Linked DNA regions of Homo sapiens: region 2 is linked to region 1. Evidence: fine-mapped expression QTL. Tissue or cell type: whole blood. Region 1 holds a variant in brackets; the other region holds the start of a gene. All regions are shown on one strand. Distances are from middle to middle.

Evidence for each region. PIP is the estimated chance that this variant, and not a neighbour inherited with it, causes the effect.
Region 2: TESC starts here. The variant in region 1 is fine-mapped to the expression of TESC in whole blood (TOPMed, PIP above 0.99).

Annotation. Positions count from the first base shown.
Region 1 is chr12:117,057,564-117,067,414 of GRCh38, reverse strand. All of the region lies in intron 2 of TESC (tescalcin), which reads left to right. Among named protein-coding and RNA genes, the nearest start is that of TESC, 37 kb to the left of the region's middle. RefSeq lists enhancers at 3,449-4,225, 4,226-5,002. The variant A/T (reference allele first, on the strand shown) is at 5,278.
Region 2 is chr12:117,094,946-117,104,796 of GRCh38, reverse strand. TESC (tescalcin) reads left to right here and starts at 5,381. Exons shown (of 8, transcript NM_017899.4): 1 at 5,381-5,572. The coding sequence starts at 5,515. TESC-AS1 (TESC antisense RNA 1) reads right to left here and starts at 5,330. Exons shown (of 3, transcript NR_120464.1): 1 at 5,153-5,330; 2 at 4,157-4,344. RefSeq lists an enhancer at 1,750-2,249 and silencers at 4,165-4,382, 5,249-5,387, 5,126-5,645, 5,706-5,815, 5,886-5,985.

The DNA of each region.
Region 1 (9,851 bases):
AAAAAATTTTTTTGTAGAGATGCGAGTCTTGCTAGGTTGCCCAGGCTGGTCTCGGACTCCTGGCTCAAGCAATACTCCTGCCTCAGTCTTCCAAAGTGCTAGGATTACAGGCATGAGACACCATGCCTGGCCTCGACAGCTTTTTTTAGAAATACTATACTCATAAGGAAGTTGCTGAGGCCCTACCTAGCTCAGCAGGCTGTTTCACCATCAGAATTTAATATATTCCAAGAGGCAGCGAGTCCTCCCTTTAAAAGCCTCAGCTAGGATGATGCACGTTCACTTAAAGAGGAAAACCTGCTACGGTAGCTGTAAAGATGCCCAGAAAAGACAGCGGGCGTGAGGCAGCTGGACTCGCACATCTGCTTAGGTGAGAGTGTTAAGGCAGACGTGAGGAGAGCCACCAAGGGGGTAGTTTGGTGTGAAAAGGTGCGGAGGCGTTCCCGAGGCAAAAAGCAGCTTTCTAAACAGTCTTAGTTTTATTAGCAGGTACTCGCATATAAAACTTTTATAGAGATTCTTTTCCCAGGATGGTTGATACTGACATGGTCCTTGCTTACAAGCCTGCAAATGTCCAGGGCCTTCCGTGATGGGTTTTAGAGCTGAGGATCCTACAGGGTTGAGAAGGGGAGGCTCCCCTTCCCCTGCTGGGGCACTTCTGTTCTGATGCTTATGTGTGTGAGGGGTAGTCAGAGAGAAAGCTAGCACATCAGCCAGTTCATGCTATAACATGAGCAATATACTAAGGTTGGCTGGGCATGGTGGCTCATGCCTGAAATCCCAGCACTTTGGGAGGCTGAGGCGGGCGGATCACGAGGTCAGGAGATCGAGACCATCCTGGCTAACACAGTGAATTTCTACTAAAAATACAAAAAACTAGCCAGGCGTGGTGGTGGGTGCCTGTGGTTCCAGTTACTCGGGAGGCTGAGGCAGGAGAATGGCGTGAACCCGGGAGGCGGAGCTTGCAGTGAGCCAAGATAGCGCCACTGCACTCCAGCCTGGGCAACACAGTGAGACTCCGTCTCAAAAAAAAAAAAAAAATTAGCCATTCATGGTGGCGGGTGCCTGTAGTCCCAGCTACTCAGAAGGCTGAGGCAAGAACATCTGTTGAACCCAGGAGGTGAAGGCTGCAGTGAGCCAAAATCGCACCACTGTACTCCAGCCTGGGCGATAGAGTGAAGCCCTGCCCCAAAAAAAAAAAAAAAAAAAAAAAAGCTAAAGGAAGGAAACAGGGCAGACAGCCATCCCCTGGAACCCTAGGGAGGAGAGGGTCCTTGGGGTAGGTGGTCATGGAAGGTGCCACTGAGGAGGCCACATCTGGGCTGAGACCAGGAGAGAAGGAGCCGGTGTGTGAAGAGAAGAGGGAGGGGAGCTCTAGGCAGAAGGCCCAGCACATGAGGAGAATTGGAGAGTTGGGTGCAGATCACAGAGGGTTTGCCTTTGCCCTAGTGATGACTTGGGTTTCCTTTTGTCCTTGAAATAAAATGCACAGATGTGGCCTGAAACACCAGCTGTATGTTAGCTCCTACTTTTTTGTTGTTGTTTTGCTCTGTTGCCCAAGCTGAAGTGTGGTGGTTCGATCTCAGCTCACTGCAGCCTCAACCACCCAGGCTCAAGCGATCCTCCTGCCTCAGCCTCCCAGAACTTACAGGCATGTACCACCATACCCGGCTAATTTTTGTATTTTTTGTAGAGATGGGGTCTTGCCATGTTGCCAAGGCTGGTCTTGAACTCCTGGGCTCAAGGAGTCCTCTCACCTCAGCCTCCCAAAGTGCTGAAATTATAGGTGTGAGCCACTGTGCCCGGCCAGCTCCTACATCTGTATGTCCTCCCAGGACCTCTCCCCTGAGCTCCTGACTCATGTAGCAACTGCCCATCCACTTAATATCCAATAAGACATGCCGCTTAACATGCCCCTTTCAAAGCAAGCACCTCCTCATCCCTCCCAGAGGTCCCCCGTTCCTCTGTGGTGAACGGCAGCCTCACAGTTCCCTGCAGTGGTCACCTTTGATTCCTCCCTTTGTCTCAGCCCTGCTTCCAGTTCATCAGCAAACACTGCCATTTCTACCTCCCAAGGAGCCCAGGATTTGCTACTTCTCTCCCCTTCTTCCTCTGCTCCCCCAGCCCCTGCCCTCATCCAGCTGCCATGGTCTCTGGCCTGGGCTACCCCAACAGCCTCCTCCCTGGTTCCCCTGTGTCTGTCTTCACTGTCCATCCACCATCCAGGCTCACGGTACCATGTGGGAGGGTCCTATGAGACTGTCTCTTCTCTGCTGAAGATGTTCTGTCTCACCCATTGGGAGTCAGAGCCTCCGCTGAGGCCTCTCAGTGTCCTTCTGGCCCCTGCACGGTTGGGCCCCTGCCACACCCATCTCCAATTATTTTTGCCCAAGTTACATGAACATTCTTTGTTCCCCACCCCAGGGCTCTAGCTCATGCTGTTCCTTCTTCTTAGAATGCTTTTCCCCTAGAGCAGGGTTTTTGAGCCTGGGCTCTGGGGCTGGATGATTCTTCACTGGGGGTTGTCCTGGGCACTGTGGGGTGCTGAGCAGCATCCCTGGCCTCCACCCACTAGATGCTGGTAGCACCCTCCCCACCAGCTGGACACATGGGAGTGGAGAACCTCCCCTCCTTCAGGTCTCTGCTCAAATGTCACTTTTTTCCCTGTGGCCTTTCTGTGGTCAACCTCATTTAAACTTGTACCGGTCTCCTGTGGTCCCCTCCCTTTCTCTGCTGAATTTCTCTGCAAAGTACTCATCACTCCCTGAGATACTCTATTTCCCATCTTTTTTGTGCTCTCCTAGATTCCCCGTAAGGGATCGTGTCTGTCTTTACCTCTGCAGCTGGCACCTAGAACAGTGCCTGGCTCCTTGAAGGGGCTCGAATGCTTGTCGCTGAGTTGCTTTCACTGTAAGAAGTCAATTCCAGGTGTTGGGGAAAGTGGGGGACTGACATGGGGCAGGGACAGGGATGAGAAGGTGTTTGCCTGGGGGAGTGGTCTTGGCGACGTTGTCCAGCTTTTCAAAGAGGCATTTGCCAGGAGCAAAAAGGACCAGGCCTTTCTTGCCAGAATCTTCTGTGCAAAAATGTGGATAGGAGAATTGCCTAGCACATTTGCACAATTCCAGGTGCTTTGAAACATTGAGAGATTAAGAGGCCAGCAGTTCTCACGCATTCATGTGTACGTGAATGCCCTGGGGACTGCGTTAAAATGCAGGTTCTGTAATGCCAGCACTTTGGGAGGCCAAGGCGGGAGGATCACTTGAGCCCAGGCGTTCAGGACTAGCTTGGGAAATATAGTGAGACCCTGTCTTTACCAAAAATAAATTGGGTGTGGTGGTACACACCTGTAGTCCCAGCTGCTCAGGAGGCTGAGGAGGGAGGATCACTTGAGCCCAGGAGTTCAAGGCTGCAGTGAGCCATGAATGCACTACTGTATTAATGCAGGTTTTGATTCAGTAGGTCTGGAGTAGGGAGAGATGGTGCATCTCTAATAAGCTCCAGGTGATGCAGATGCTGCTGGCCCAGAAACCACACTTTGAGTATCTTGGCTACTGGGAAGACATGTGCTGAGTGACATGCAGTCTCTGCCTTGAAGAGTCTCCATGGGGCCTCAGCTTCCCCACTGTGGGGGACACCACATGCTGAACAGTGAGTGCAGGAAGGGGAATCAGAGGGGCACTGGGCAGGCAGTGCAGGAAGGGGAACTCAGAGGGACATTGGGCAGGCAGCCCGGCAAAGTGGCCTCCCTCAGTGCAGGGAGCCCTGGAGCGGTGGAAGTTCCGGCCTGAGAATCTGGGGCCTGGCTGCACCCTCACCTTGGAGGTCGGTTAGCCTTGTGGTGGTTGGTGGGGGTTGGGGAGCTCCATGCTCAGTACCCCTAGAGAGAACTTTGCAACTGAGCTGGGCTCCGAAAGCCACCGGAAACCAACCCACACCACGAGGCTTGAGGAAGAGCCCAGCACAGTCCTCGGTGGTTTTTTGAGCCTGGTCCTTCCCTTCTTGTTGGCCTGACGCTTGTCCTGCCCTCTTCCTGGGTCCCAGATGGGGCCTCTTGGGCTGAGGGCTGGGGGCTGGGTGAGAGCAGATGCCTCGCTCTTTCTCTCTTTAACGTAAAAATGCGCAACTGGAAGGAAGGAAGTGGTGAGAGTGAGGAAGCGCAAGATGGTTCGAGCCAGCCTGGAGGCAGAGCTGGAGTCCCGCGCCAACTCTAGCTGTGTGACTGGGGCTTAGTCTCTTTGCCTCTCTGGGCCTTGTGTTCTGGTCTGTAAAATAGGATCATCATTGTTGCCACTCATGATTATGTGGGGGTGATTAAGTGTTGCAGTGCTTAGCACAGCTTGATGTCACGCGAGCCCTTCATGACTCCAGGGGGACATTCTGAAGCCCCGAGGGCTCAAGCTCTCCCGCAGGAGGCCTGGAAGGTGTGTGGCCCTGGAGCCCTCCTGGGCAATCCCCGCTACCCCTGATGGTCACTGGGGCAACACCACTGGCCATGAGAATCAGCTCTGGCTGAGGGCAGTGACCTGCCGTCAGCCCTGGGCTCTGAGGTGAGGCAGAGCCTGTTCCCATGGCTGCAGCCTGGGCTGCGACACCTTTAGAAAAGCCGGTTCATCCAGCCCGGCGGGGACCTAGGGAGGAAGGAAAACAAAACTGACACGAGTATTGATGGAGCATGAAACTGATGAAATGAAAAGGTTAGCCTGTCCTAAGCGCTGGACTCAAGGCCGGTGCTCTCCTTGTTGAAAAGGGACATTGGCAGGTTTTAGGGAAAGTCCCTGAAGGCCAGGCACCAACCACCATGCCACTGCCTGGGTCCGCCAGTATCATTCTTAACAATGAGAAGTGGCTTCATCTCTCTGCCTCAGTTTCCTCATCTTTAAAATGGGCACAGGCCGGGTGCAGTGGCTCACACCTGTAATCCCAGCACTTTGGGAGGCTGAGGAGGGCAGATCACCTGAGGTCACGAGTTCGAGACCAGCCTGGCCAACATGGTGAAACCCCATCTCTACTAAAAATACAAAAATTAGCTGGGCATGGTGGCAGGTACCTGTAATCCCAGCTACTCGGGTGGCTGAGGTACAAGAATCACTTGAACCCAGGAGGTGGAGGTTGCAGTGAGCAGAGATCACGCCACTGTGCTCCAGCCTGGGCGGCAGAGTGAGACTCCGTCTCAAAAAAAAAAAATTAAGAAAATAAAATGGGCATAAGTACCTACTTTATAGGGTTGTTGTGAACCCTATGTAATAATGTAAAGCTCTTAGAATAGTTCCTTCC[A/T]TTTTGAGGGTACGTAGGTTAGCTGCTGTTACATTATTATTATTACTACTATTAATACTGCTGCAGCGATTACTGTTACTGCTGCTGCCGTTATTACTGTTATTATTTTAAAATTAAGAGCTCATCCTGTGTCAGGCAGCCTACTCAGCATCTTATGTGGATTTATCTCATTTGATCATCTCATTAGCCCCATCATGTTACCTGGATATTCCTATGATCCCCATTTTACATATGAGAAATCACGGCTTGAAGACATGCTGTGATTACTCAAGACCATGTGCCTGGTAAGGGGCAGAGCCTGGGCCAGCACCCCTCTCCCCACCTTGTGTTTGACCCTGAACCATCCCCTTTGATATGGGAAGGATTAGGTCTGCACCCATCTCACAGATGAGGAAACTGAGGCTCCAAGAGTCAGGCACCAGTGGTGAGGGGGAGGTGAGAGTCAGGTGTGGATGTAGCAGGTGCCTATGGAGAGAGAGAGAGAGAGCAGAGGCAGCGGGCTTCAGAGCCATTTACACACCCACTGGGGGTTGTGAAGCCAGCACCTGGGGACACTGTGTCCCCAGCTCAATTCCTAGCAGGTCAAGCATGTCTTGTTGCTGCTGGTTGGGGACAGGCCTCTTGTGTTGAGTTAATTTCTTCTCCAGGCACATGGGTCAGGCTCTTCTAGGTGGTTTCTCCCCCACCTCTCCTCCCTCTCTCCTGGGACATTGGGGTCTGCTCTCCTTCCAGGGTCTGGACACCTGGGCCCTGGGGAAGGCACCTGGGGAAGGGCAGTGCCTCAGGATGGGCCAGACAAAGAGGGAAGCCCTGCGTGCAGCCATCTTCATTATTCGCTTCATTATTCGCTCAGCAAACCATTTATTGACCACCTTGCCAAGCCCAGCAGTGCAAGGCACTGAGGACGGGGTGCTGTGGACATCACAGGGTCCCCATCCTGCAAGGTGCCATCTGTGGTGCACTCCCAGTTCACCAGACACCGTGCTGAGCATGTTGCAGACTTTATCTCCTCTAAACTGTACGGCAACCCTGTGAGGTTCCTGTTTGCAAAGGAGTAGACAGAGGCTGGGTGAGGCAACGCCGTTTGACCCAGGTAGCAGAGTAGGGTAGAGCCCAAGTGTGATTCCAGAGGCTGTGCCCTTCACCCTCTGTCAGTATCAGTGTGCCCTCCTCACAGACGAGAAAACAGACTCAGGAAGGATTAGCAACAGCCAGTGAAAGCCAGAGAGGGTTTGGCTAGCAGCATAGCAGCCAGCGGCTTCTCTGTTCTCCCAGATTCCCTCTGGAGCTCCACGTGGTCCCTTTCTCAGGGATCTGGGCCTTGGAAAATGGATTCTATTCGGATGGCCAGGGAGAGTCGGGCAGCAGGGTATCTGGTAAGAGCATGGCTGTACGCTACCTGGCTTCCAAGCTGACTCTTCCATGCCCCCACTGGGTGAGCTGGGGCAGGTTGCCGAACCTGTCTGTGCTGAGCCTGAAGCGTCGTGGATAATAGGAGCCCTTGTGGGGTCTCTGGGAAGCGAGGTGGCTCCGGCCAAGTTGCTTGCACGGTTGTGAGCTGTAGCTGTCATTGTCATCCGATCGTGATTTCGTAGATCATCTCCCTGGTAACCCTGACTCATTCAGGGCTCTGGTCTCTCTATTCTGTCCCCTCCTGTGGTCGCCTCCCACTAATGAGGAAAAAGGGCAAGGCATCGAGCTGTCTCCGAGCAGTGAGGGTGTGACCTGCATACAGAAAAGCATGTGTCACACACAGAGGGACTTTGACAGACGGAACATGCAACAGAATGTTCCCGGCTCCCAAAAGGCCCCCATATTCCCTCTCAATCACCCCCAACTCTGGGGCGGTTCACCACCCTGACTGCAGAGGTTCGTGTTGTCACTTTCTGTTCTTTACATAAATGGAGTCATAGTGCAGTAGCACAGCAGTTCTTTTTTGTTTTTTTAAAGACTTATTAGAAAATTTTAACAGCTTTATGGAGCTGTAATGCACATATTATAAAATTCGCCCATTGAAAATGTACAGTCCACTTTAGAGCACCTCAGAAAGAAGCTCTGCACCCGTTAGCCATCACCCCGTCCCCAGCCCCTGGAAACCACATCTCTCCACTTTGTCTCCCTGCATTTGTCTTTTCTGGATGTTTCCTATAAATGGCATCGTACACCATTTGTGTCTGGCTTCTTCCACTGAGCATCATGTCTTCCAGGTATATCCGTGCTGTGGCATGGATGAGAATCTCGTTCCTGGACAGGTGCAATGGCTCACACCTGTAATCCCAGCACTTTGGGAGGCTGAGGTGGGTGGATTACCTGAGGTCAGGAGTTTGAGACCAGCCTGGCCAACTGGTGAAACCGCACCTCTACTAAAAATACAGAAGTTAGCTGGGCGTGGTAGCACATGTCTGTAATCCCAGCTACTCGGGAGGCTGAGGCAGGAGAATCACTTGAACCCGGGAGGCGGAGATTGCAGCCGAGATCCACTATGGAGCAGGCCCATGGAGATTGAGCCGAGATTGTGCCACCGCGCTCCAGCCTGGGCAACAGAGTGAAACTCTGTCTCAAAAAAACAAAACAAAAAACCTTGTTCCTTTTTATGGCCAAAAAATAATCTTATTTTTTTTTCCATGGCCAAATAACATCCCATCTCTCTGGGCCAGCTGTCCCGAGTCTACCTCCTTCTTTTGAACTGGGTTTCTGGGAATCTAAAACATGAGTCTGCCCTGACACAGCTACTGAGTTTGGCCAGAGGCCATGAGTGAGCCCAGCTGAAAGGCCTGGGTGGGAGGGACAGGAGGCCATGCCGGGGACACAGAGGGACCCGGGAATCGGCCAGGTCCTGCTGTGCCTCTCCATGCCTCCATCCCCACCCCTCCAATGCGTAAGGCAGGGCAGCACAGGGGCCACAAGGCGTTCACAGAATCTTCCAACCCAAACGGCGTAGAGTCCCTTGCATCTGTTTTGCCTCCTCCTCTCCAGCATCTGTCTGTCCTAGTGTTGAATCCCACTCCCAATGACTGTCCCGTCATCACTTCCCACCCGGACGTCCTCATTTTCAGTGGGCTGATACCCTCTGCCTTCCCTACCTGGGCCTGACACCTTTTTCCCTAGGATCACCAGCCTGTGTGCTGGGTCCTTCCCAAGACACTGCCCGTGGAGGCCCATGGAGCAGAAGGAAAAGGTGAGCAGGAAGCAGATTGAGAGAACCCAGGATGGCCTTCTGTGAAAGGCAGGGGAGGAGGGCAGGCAGGTGAGGGAGTGGCTGACGCCCCTGCCTGCAAACCTGCAGCCTCTAGGACTCAGCATTACCTGTGCCAGCTACAGGGTGTCCTCCTGTGAAATTCACCCTCCCCTCTCCCCAGCCAAGCTTTTTTTGCCTTTTTTTTTTTTTTTTTAAGAGATTGGAGTCTCACTGTATCACCCAGGCTGCAGTGTAGTGGCACCATCATAGCTCACTGTAACCTTGAACTCCTGGGCTTAAACAATCCTCTTGCCTCAGCCTCCTGCATTGGTTGCTAGCTGGGACTACAGGCGCATGCCATCACACCTGGCTGGCTTTTTTTTTTTTTTTTTTTAACAGCTTTACTGAAATGTAATTTACATAATACAACTTAGCCATTAAAATGTGCAATTCAGTGACATTTGTTGTATGTACAGAGTTCTGCATCCAGCACTGCAGTCAATATTAGAACATATTCATCACTCCCAAAAGAAAGCTGTACCCTCAGCTGGCACACCACATTCCCCTCTCCCCAACCCCCTGACAACCACCAATCTGCTTTCTACCGCGGTGTATTTACCTATTCCAGATAATTCATGTAAATGGAATTATGTAATATGTGGTCATTTGTAATTGGCTTCTTTCACTTAGCATAATGGGTTTTTTTTGTTTGTATTTTGAGACGGAGTCTCAAAACTCAAAAGTTTTTTGAGACTACAGTCTACCAGGCTGTAGTGCAATGGTGAGATCTTGGCTCACTGCAACCTCCACCTCCCGGATTCAAGCAACTCTTGTGTCTGAGGTTCCCAAGTAGCTGGGATTACAGATGTGCGCCACCACACCCGGGTAATTTTTGTATTTTTAGTAGAGATGGGGTTTCACCATGTTGGCCAGGCTGGTCTTGAACTCCTGACCTCAAGTGATCCGCCTGCCTCGGCCTCCCACAGTGCTGGGATTACAGGTGTGAGCTACGGCGCCCGGGCTCACTTAGCATCATGTTTTTTAGATTCATTTGTGTTGTAGCATCTATCAGTACTTGGTTCCTTTTTATGGCTAAAAAATACTCCATTGTGGTTGCAGTGAGCCAGGATTGCACCACTGCACTCCAGCCTGGGCGGCAGAGCGAGACTCCATCTCAAAAAACAAACAAACAAAAAAACTCCATTGCATGGGCCACATTTTATTTCTCCAATTATGAGTTGACAGATGTTTGGGTTGTTTCTGCTTTACGGGTGAGCAATGCTGCTGTGAAATTCACACACAGGTTTTTATTTCTCTTGGGCATATCCCTAGGAGTGGAGTTGCTGGGTTGTCAATACTCCATGTTTAACCTTTGAGGACCTGCCAGACTGTTTTC
Region 2 (9,851 bases), 37 kb before region 1:
TACAATCCTTTGGGAACATCTTGGTTTTTCTATCAATAAAATGCGGATGTGCTGGGTGCCTCTCCTCCGGGCCCCTGCAGTGACTGGTACCGGCTAGCATACCATGATGTTCTGTTCACATCTCTTTCCTTGCAGACTTTGGGATCCCTGAGGTCAGGGACTGTCTCCTTCACTGTAGTGTCCAAACTCCTGGCACTCAATAGTGAATGCATGAACAAATAAACGAACATATGACAGTCAACTGGGTAGTAGTTTCCTGGTCTTGACTGGCTTGCAAGAGCAAATGGTTAAATATTCAGGGATTTTAAGCTGGGCATGGTGGCGCATGCCTGTATTTGCAGCTACCTGGAAAGCTGAGGCAGGAGGATCCTCTGAGCCCAGGAGTTCGACGCTAGCCTGAGCAACATAGTGAGACCCCATATCTAAAAAAACAAAATTCAGGGATTTTGCAAGCCTATTGTTAAATTATCAGTAACTTGAAATTGACTATGGCACGAGTATTTACACACAGAAATTGGCAACTGCTACAGATTAGGACTTCTGCCCCTCCTGCCCTTTTCAGAGAACTTGTTTACCAGCTCACCACTGGCTAGCACTTACGGTGTCAGGCAGTTTTAAGCACCTTCTCTATATGAATCTGCATTTAACCCTTACAATGTTACATATATGAATCTGCATTTAACCCTCACAATCACCTTACATGTATGAATCACCTTACATATATGAATCTGCATTTAACCCTCACAATGTTACATATATGAATCTGCATTTAACCTTCACAGTCACCTTACATGTATGATCACCTTACATATATGAATCTGCATTTAACCTTCACAATCACCTTACATGTATGAATCACCTTACATATATGAATCTGCATTTAACCCTCACAATCACCTTACATGTATGAATCACCTGACATATATGAATCTGCATTTAACCTTCACAATCACCTTACATGTATGAATCACCTTACATATATGAATCTGCATTTAACCCTCACAATCACCTTACATGTATGAATCACCTTACATATATGAATCTGCATTTAACCCTCACAATCACCTTACATGTATGAATCACCTTACATATATGAATCTGTATTTAACCGTCACAATCACCTTACATGTATGAATCACCTTACATATATGAATCTGCATTTAACCCTCACAATCACCTTACATGTATGAATCACCTGACATATATGAATCTGCATTTAACCCTCACAATGTTACATATATGAATCTGCATTTAACCTTCACAGTCACCTTACATGTATGATCACCTTACATATATGAATCTGCATTTAACCTTCACAATCACCTTACATGTGTGAATCACCTTACATATATGAATCTGCATTTAACCCTCACAATCACCTTACATGTATGAATCACCTGACATATATGAATCTGCATTTAACCTTCACAATCACCTTACATGTATGAATCACCTTACATATATGAATCTGCATTTAACCCTCACAATCACCTTACATGTATGAATCACCTTACATATATGAATCTGCATTTAACCCTCACAATCACCTTACATGTATGAATCACCTTACATATATGAATCTGTATTTAACCTTCACAATCACCTTACATGTATGAATCACCTTACATATATGAATCTGCATTTAACCCTCACAATCACCTTACATGTATGAATCACCTTACATATATGAATCTGCATTTAACCTTCACAATCACCTCACATGTATGAATCACCTTACATATATGAATCTGCATTTAACCCTCACAATGTAATTGCCACTTTGCAGATGGGGAAACTGAGGATGAGAGAGGTTAACTTGCCCAAGTATGGTTTCATAGCCCTCCATGACAGGAAGGTGGGAGAGCCAAATGAAGACCATCCTGGCCATCTCTGGGCTCAGCTGCTCTTTGCGGCTTGACAGGGACCAGCTATATGAATTGCGGTCACCACTTTTAATCAGCTCCTCCAGGAGGAGGTCCTCTGGGAGAAAAGACGCAGTTGCCTGGTGACTAAAGTGTTTCCCAGTCCTCCAAAAGTCATGCTGTGTTATTGGGGGGGATAAAGCTTGCCCCCCAGCAGGGTGCCCCTCTTCCAGGGCTCTAGACAAAAAATCCAATGAGCCCTGGCCAGACCCCATGCAAAGCTGCAGACCTCATTCTTGCTTCTTGCTTTGTTGACGCCTGCAGAGCCATTGGTAGGTTTGAATGAAAGCCATGACGTCCCGGAACAGGCAGCAGCTGGCTTTGCGTGGAGGGCGCCTTGCGGTGTGCACATCATTGCCAGAGGAGGGCAGAGCCCGGGCAGATGGTGGGTGCCACTGCAGGGGCCCCCACAGAGACATCTGTCCACCAAGAATTTGGCTTTGCTGTATCCCTTCGGGACCACAGTTGGGGACAGTCCTGGACTTCCTGAAGCTCAGCTTTAGGGATGACAGAGTCTCTCCAGGGGCCCATTCTGGTTTGAACATTCCATCTCTCTGTGGGCTCCATCACGTCAGCCCTTGTTTACCCATCTGCTTTGTCACTGCCCGTGTGTCTGTCTCCTCACCCCACCAGGAGTTCTTCAGGAGCGAAGGTGGCATCTTATTCCTGGCTGTGGCTCCAGGACCTAGCAAGAGCCCTGAACATAGTAGGTGCTCAATAAATGTGCAATGAATAAATGATTGAACGAATGCATAAATTGTGCCTTGGTTTTTTCTGCCTTCGTGCTGCTCCAAGGATCTCCTGATTACTTCTCCAAGCCCTGCTATTAGGAATAAATCCTCCTCTGTCATCCTCAGCAAGACTTCCCGCCTCCCAGCTCCCTGCTGACTGGTGGTGGTGGCTTGTTTGGCTGTGGACCCAGGAGAGGGGATGAGGACTCTGAGAAGGCCTCCCTGAGGATGTGAGTTTCCACTGAGGTCTGAAGAGGAAGCGGGAGTGCAAGAGAGTTTCAGGCAAAAGGAACAAGTACAAGTGCTTGTCTAGTAGCTAACAGCGGTCAGTGGGTCAGGGTAGACAGGTGATCGGGTAGGACAGACTCCCTTCATACTAGATACCAGGGGCTTCCTTGAGATCACCAAGGGACAATGTGAAGCCATGTGCCCTTCTCCTTGTCCCAGGGCTTTTGTCCCCACCAGAGCAACTGTGCCAAGCAGGAGGGGCTGATGTCCAGAGAATGCCACTTCCTATCCCCCACATCAGACAGTTCCATCATTTAATCCTTGACTAGTTTAATATAATAAAATTCCAGGAACTGACATTTTAAGTTGGAATAAAATTGCTCCCAGCAGCTGTACGTAATGGGCTGGCTCAGCGGCTCAGAACTCCCAGGGGTATTGGGGATCCTTTCCTGATCCCAGAGGCCTGCCTGTTTCCAGAATCCTTTAAACCAAAATGCAGTCCCTAGGTCAGCTGTCCTGCCGGCTCAGATCAGCTGATGACCCACAGCCAACATCTTTCCACCTTGATCAGGTCTTGCACTGCCCTCTGGAGAGTGCTTTAAAATGCAGATTGCAGGTGCTGCCTTAGCTCTACGAGTGCAGACAGGCAGTGGAAGAGGAAGCTGGATTTTCCATTTTAGAGACAGGGTCTCGTTCTGTTGCCTGGGCTGGAGTGCAGTGGTGCAATCAGAGCTCACTGCAGCCTCTAACTCCTGAGCTCAAGCGATCCTTCTGCCTCATCCTCCCAAGTAGCTGGGACTTCAGACGCACACCATTGTGCCCAGCTCATTTTTAAAAAGTTTTAATTGCTGGTAGAGCTGGGGTCTTGCTATGTTGCCCAGGCTGGTCTCAAACTCCTGGGCTCAATCCTCCTGTCTCAGCCTCCCAAAGTGGTGAGATTACAGACATGAGCCACTGCACCTGGCCAAAAGCTGGATTTGCAACCAGGAAGGGGCTGATTCTGATGCTCTAGGAGGTTTTAGGACCAACTCCCACCCTCTACCTCGGGCTCTGAAAGTCACCTCCTGCCCCTGGAAAGGGCTGTGACCCTTGGCTTGAGCCTGTAGTCTGCAGGAATGAACAGCAGTTCTCAGCAGCCCCCTTCCCAGCAGCCTGTGAAACTGATGGAGGTAGGTCCACCCGAGTCCCCTCTGTGGGCACCGAAAAACTCCTGCCCCCTACCCTGTCCCCCTTCCTCCCCAACATTTATCATCGAGACTAACGTTCAGAACAGACCTGATACCTGACGGTCATTGATGGTGGTGTCACTAAGCACTGCAGAGCCTTCAGGAGAGCCTTGACCTTGATGTTCTGCCCTGGCTGTGTGCCTCTCCAGGGGACAAGATTCCATAGCGCCCACCAGCCTCTGTGGCCATGTGCTGTGTCCACGCCAGGCCCTCTGGTGGACATCTCATTAACTTATCCTTATTTTAAGGAGGAGGAATCACATTACACAGGCAACAGCATCGGCCCCAGTCACCCCAACTGGATGGAGAGCCAACCCCTCAAGCCATCTTAACCCAGAACTTCCCTAATGGGCATGGGGACCACCGGCATTGCCTTCTCTCCAGCAGTTTGTCCCAAATGCAGCCTCCTGGGCCCACTTCTGCAGTTGTTTTTTTGTTTGTTTGTTTTTTGAGACAGAGTCTTGCTCTGTCGCCCAGGCTGGAGTGCAGTGGCAAGATCTCAGCTCACTGCAACCTCTGCCTCCCAGGTGCAAGTGATTCTCCTGCCTCAGCCTCCGGAGTAGCTGGGATTACAGGCATGTGCCACCGCGCCTGGCTAATTTTTGTGTTTTTAGTAGAGACGGGGTTTCACCATGTTGGCCAGGCTGGTCTCGAACTCATGAGCTCAAGTGATCCGCCCGCCTTGGCCTCCCAAAGTGCTGGGATTACAGGCGTGAGCCATGCGCCCAGCCCGCTCCTGCAGTTTGAGGTGCCTCTCAGCCACCGGGCTGTGCAGGGCCCACACGGGCCGCCACGTGGGTGTGTTCACCTCAGAAGGTGCTGGGGCTTTCCTGGAAAAAACCAAAGCGCATGGTGCATTTTCAAATAGGATTATTATTACTGTTGTTCTCCATAGAGCTATTTCATGCTCGCTGACTTCCTTGACTATCTCAGTGGAGTTTCCCTCCTAAGATCTGGAGGATGTAAGGTGGGATGGGTTGGGAGTGGGCATAGCACCTCCCAGGGGTCCCACCCCTCCTACCCACGCCCCCAAATTTGCTCACACCTGCTTCCTTCCAGATCCAGCAGGTGTGCGGAAGGGACGAGGTACGTGAGCACTGCTGCACGAACGGGGACTCCAGAGCGGTGGGCTCCGGGGTCCCCTTCCCGGCGGTTTCCGGGCCGGGGCGGGGCGGGGCGCTCCCCTAGCCGCGCAGTGCGCGAAACCGGCGTGCGCTAGGACCGCGGCGCGCCGCCCTCCGCCGTTATATGAGGCCCCGCTCCGGCCCCACGCGGAACCCGCGGCTCCGAGCCTTCGCCGGCGTCCCGACCCGAGGCCGGACCCGAGGCCAGTCCCGCCGCTGCGCAGCCGAAGCCAGTGCGGGGCCTGAGAGGGACGCGCGCCCCGGGGCCCCCGCCGCGGGCACCATGGGCGCTGCCCACTCCGCGTCTGAGGAGGTGCGGGAGCTCGAGGGCAAGACCGGCTGTGAGTACCCGCGGGGGGCGGCGCGGGGACCGGGGCGGGACCTCCGAACGGCCACTGTTGGGGACCCCGGCCCGCCGCCGCGCTGTGTGACCTTGGGCCAGTGGCGGGCCCTCTCTGCGCCTCAGTCTCCTCCTCTTTCAAATGGGTCCCCGCTGGCCACCTCGCGGGCTGCGGCGAGGAGCTCCGCGGCGATGCTCAGTGCCGCAGCCGCTCAGCTTCGGACTGGCCCGGGAACTCCCTGGCCGGGGGACTGCGGACCGGGGAGGGAGCGGGGCCCAGGCTTCCCAAGCGCAGGGCAGGTGCCTCAGGCCGGGCGGGCAAGTCCCTCAGGCACCCCCGCTGGCGCGCGCGCCCCACACCTGAGAGTCGTTTGCATTCGTGAGCGCGAGAGCGGAAAGTTTTGAAGTCGGCGGACCTGGGTGGGAACAGGTCTCCGACGCTCCCCGGCCGGGTGACCTTAGTCGGGAGAGCCGGCGCCCGGCGCCTGCTTTCGTCCTCGCATCTGTAAAATGGGTTCAGGCAGCCTCATCCCCGCGGGTGGCTGGGAGACTTAGCGAGGCAGCGGCCGCAGAGCACTTTGCCCGGAGCCCAGCGTCCTCCCCTGAGTTCGCTGAGTCTCCCGGGACCAGCAAAGGCTGCGCGCCCCGCATCGGCCCGGAGGCGGGGAGCCCTGGGAGGCCTGGCCGAGCTGCCCGCAGGGAAATGGCGGAGAAAGCGCTTCTCTGCCCGAGTTCAGCCGGGCTGGGGACTTGGCCCTGGGTCCTGAACTCGGCATGGCCAGTTCTGCCTCTGGCTGTGGACCAGGGTGTGGACTGGAGACCGCGGGGGCCAGGTGTGTGGGCAAACCGGCTTTGGCGAGCGACAGACCGGCTGTGAACCCTGCCAGCTGCACTTCCTGGCTGTGTGACCTTGGGCTAGTCACTTTACCTCTCTGATTCTCAGCTTTCCTTCTCTGTTGTAAGAGTTCTCCTAGTACCTGGTAGACGCTCAGGAAATGGGAGCTGCAGATATTTTGGGAAAGAGCTAGCTCCTGGCACCTGCTTCAAGTGCAGAGAACCAGCGTCCAGTATTGATCACCAAGAGAGGGTGGCCCAGCTGTTTGTGTGTCAGCTGAAAAGCAACCCCTCTTGACCCCCAATCTAAATACCCCTTTCCAGGAGAACTGGATGAAAATTGCAGAAAACCATTAATAACTGGTGTGTGTATGCACGCACTTATACGTCTATATCTGTATCTCTGTGTGTGTAGAGATATAGAAATATCCAACTAAAGAAGTAAAAGGTGTGGCTCAGCATATATAATATGGTACCCTTTTTTCTGTTTTTTAAAAAAGGATCCTTTGAGCTGGAGCCGCAAAGTAAAAAGAAATAGAAAATGTAAAAAGAGGGGAAAATAAGAGTATACATTTGTAATTGCTATATTTGCAGACTGGAAGAATCCACCAGAAAGTACGAATGGATGCTTGGTGGGGGTTGCGGGGGGAGTGGAAGGGATGAAGGGAGAGTGAGCTTTTTCTCCGTAAACGTTTTTATATGTTCATTTTGAACTATGTTGGATATTTTACTTACTCAAAAAGTTTTATGCACTTCAATCCGAAGACTAATATGAGAGAGAAAGGAGGGATTCCTCTAGCTCTTACTTGCTTGGGTCTCCTCTGCTTTTATTATTTCTCATGTGCCCTCTCCTCGCCTCCCACTGCTTTGAATCTGGATGGGTGTCGATGGGCATTCTCTGTGGCTGGGATCCCCGTTGGAAGGGTGGGCTCTCCGGCAGCCCACGGGGCACTCGGGAATTCCACCTGGTTGTGGGTTTGACAGGGAGGAGGGGCTGCAGAGCATGCTGGGAGTCTTGTCAGTTTCCTGGGTCCAGCCTCCCACTGGGATGACAGATGCTGTGTTCCTGCTCTGTAACCTTCCTAGATGTAGCTGCAGCGGCTTCCCTTCTTGCTGCCCAGAGCTCAGACTTCATAACCCAAGGGAGATGGAGAGGGTCGGAGAGGAGGTTCTGAGGTTAGACTAGAGTAGGCAGGTGGAACTTTAGGTAGGTGGAAAGTTGCCCCCAGTCCTCCGAAAGGGACTGCGTAATTCGGTCACTTTTGCCCACTTAGCAAATATTTATAGACCAGGGGCTGGGGATTTAGAGATGACTCGGAGAGGCTGCTGTTCCTGGAGGGGGACACACAGTAAACAAAACGCCCGACAGGTGTTAAACTGTGAACGAGGCATAGCAGGGTGGCATGAGAATGGAGCTTTAGGGTGGATCCGGAGGTCCTCCCTGAGGAGGTGATAATGGAACAGAAATCCAAGTAAGAATGAGCCAGGGGTGTGCAAATCAGTGGAAAGGGCATCTCGGGCCGAGGGGACGTCGAATGCAGAGGCCCTGTGGCAGGGACAAGCCAGCAACAGTAAATAAGAATGCATGAGATGAGGACACAGCTGTCGTCAGGGCTCAGGCTGTGGCAGGAGCCTGGCTTCAGGGGCCTTGCCAGGTACCTTGGGCAAGTCACTTATGCTCTCTGAGCCTCAGTTTTATCTACTATAAAATGGGCATAGTCATAGTACCTCCCTTGAAGTTGTTGGGAAGGATTGAGTTAATATACATGAAGTAGTTAGACCAAACACATGTACATGGTTTGTTATTGACCATGCTTTAAACACTCTTGTATGTCCTGGTCGCTCCGAGCCATAGCTGAGAGTTGAGTCTTGGTCCCACCTCTCTGAGCTACATGACCTTGGGCAAGTCATCTTACTTCTCTGAGCCTCAGTACCCCCACCTGGATCCTGAAGTCATTGTGTGGATTTGATAAGGTTACGTGCGAGACGATCGGCTTGGCATGGGAACGTCAGCTCCCAGAGACCCAGTGGGTCAGGCAGGGCCCTTCCTCCAAGGCCATTCCCTTGGGAATCTTCCCTGAGAAAAAGGGAGAAAAGCCTCAGGGTAAGGTGGCCAGAGGACAGACTGAGCCCACAGGGCTGCTGACTCCCCCGCCTCCCTGAGGACCAAGATGACCCCTGACTTTCTGGGGAGGAATCAGCTTGGTCCCTTTCTGAGAACACCATCCAGAAAGGACCAGAAGGTCAGGCTGAGGCTGGTGATAATGAACATAATTCCCCAAGCACCTGCTGAGCATCAGGCTCCACGCTGGTGCTCTCTGCATAACACTCTTTATAGTAATGATCCCCCAGGAAGGCAGTGTTAGGGCCATTTTACAGGTGAGGAAACTGAGGCTTAGAGAGGTAAACCAGCTTGCCTGCAGTCCCACAGCTGCTAAGTGGAGGAGTTGGAGATCATGGGATCCCCAAGCCTACTTTCTTTTTTTACAGTTTTTTTTAATTTTTAGTTTTTGAGGCAGGGTCTTGCTCTCTCACCCAGGCTGGAGTGCAAGGGGCATGATCAAGCTCACTGCAACCTCGAACTCCTGGGCTCCAGCGATCCTCCCACCTCAGCCTTCCCAGTAGCTATGACTGCAGGTGTGCGCCACCACACCAGCTAATTTTAAATTTTTCTGTAGAGACAGGGGTCTTGCCATGTTGATCAGACTAGTCTCAAATTCCTGGCCTCAAAGTGATCCTCCCACTTCAGCCTCTTGAAAGCGCTGGAGTTACAGGCATGAGCCACCATGCCTGGCCCCAAGACTGCTTTCTTACTGCCAGCATGCTTTCACTGTGTGTAGCTGCCACTTGAATTTCTAGGAACCAAGAAGGGATAGGAAAAGACTCCCGTATTTTTTCTCACCTTCAGGCCTTTGCACAAAAGCTGTTCCTCTGCCTGGAGCACTGTTTTCATTTGATGTGTACAATCAGGTGTTTACGTACGGGAGCCTTTCTCTGTCTCCACCCAGGGTAAGGTCTAGGCCGGGCGTGGTGGCTCACGCCTATAATCCCAGCACTTTGGGAGGCCAAGGCAGGTAGATCATGAGGTCAGGAGTTCAAGACCAGCCTGGCCAAGATAGTGAAACCCTGTCTCTACTAAAACTACAAAAATTAGCTGTGCGCGGTGGCAGACGCCTGTAATCCCAGCTACTCGGGAGGCTGAGGTCGGAGAATCGCTTGAACCTGGGTGGCGGAGGTTGCGGTGAGCTGAGAGCATGCCACTGTACTCCAGCCTGGGCGACAGAGTGAACTCCATCTCACAAAAAACAAAAACAAGAAAAAACAAACTCAAACCTTTCCTCTTAACCTTGTCTCTCTCTCTTTTTTTTTTTTTTTGAGATGAATTTTCACTCTTGTTGCCCAAGCTGGAGTGCAGTGGCGCGATCTCAGCTCACTGAAACCTCTGC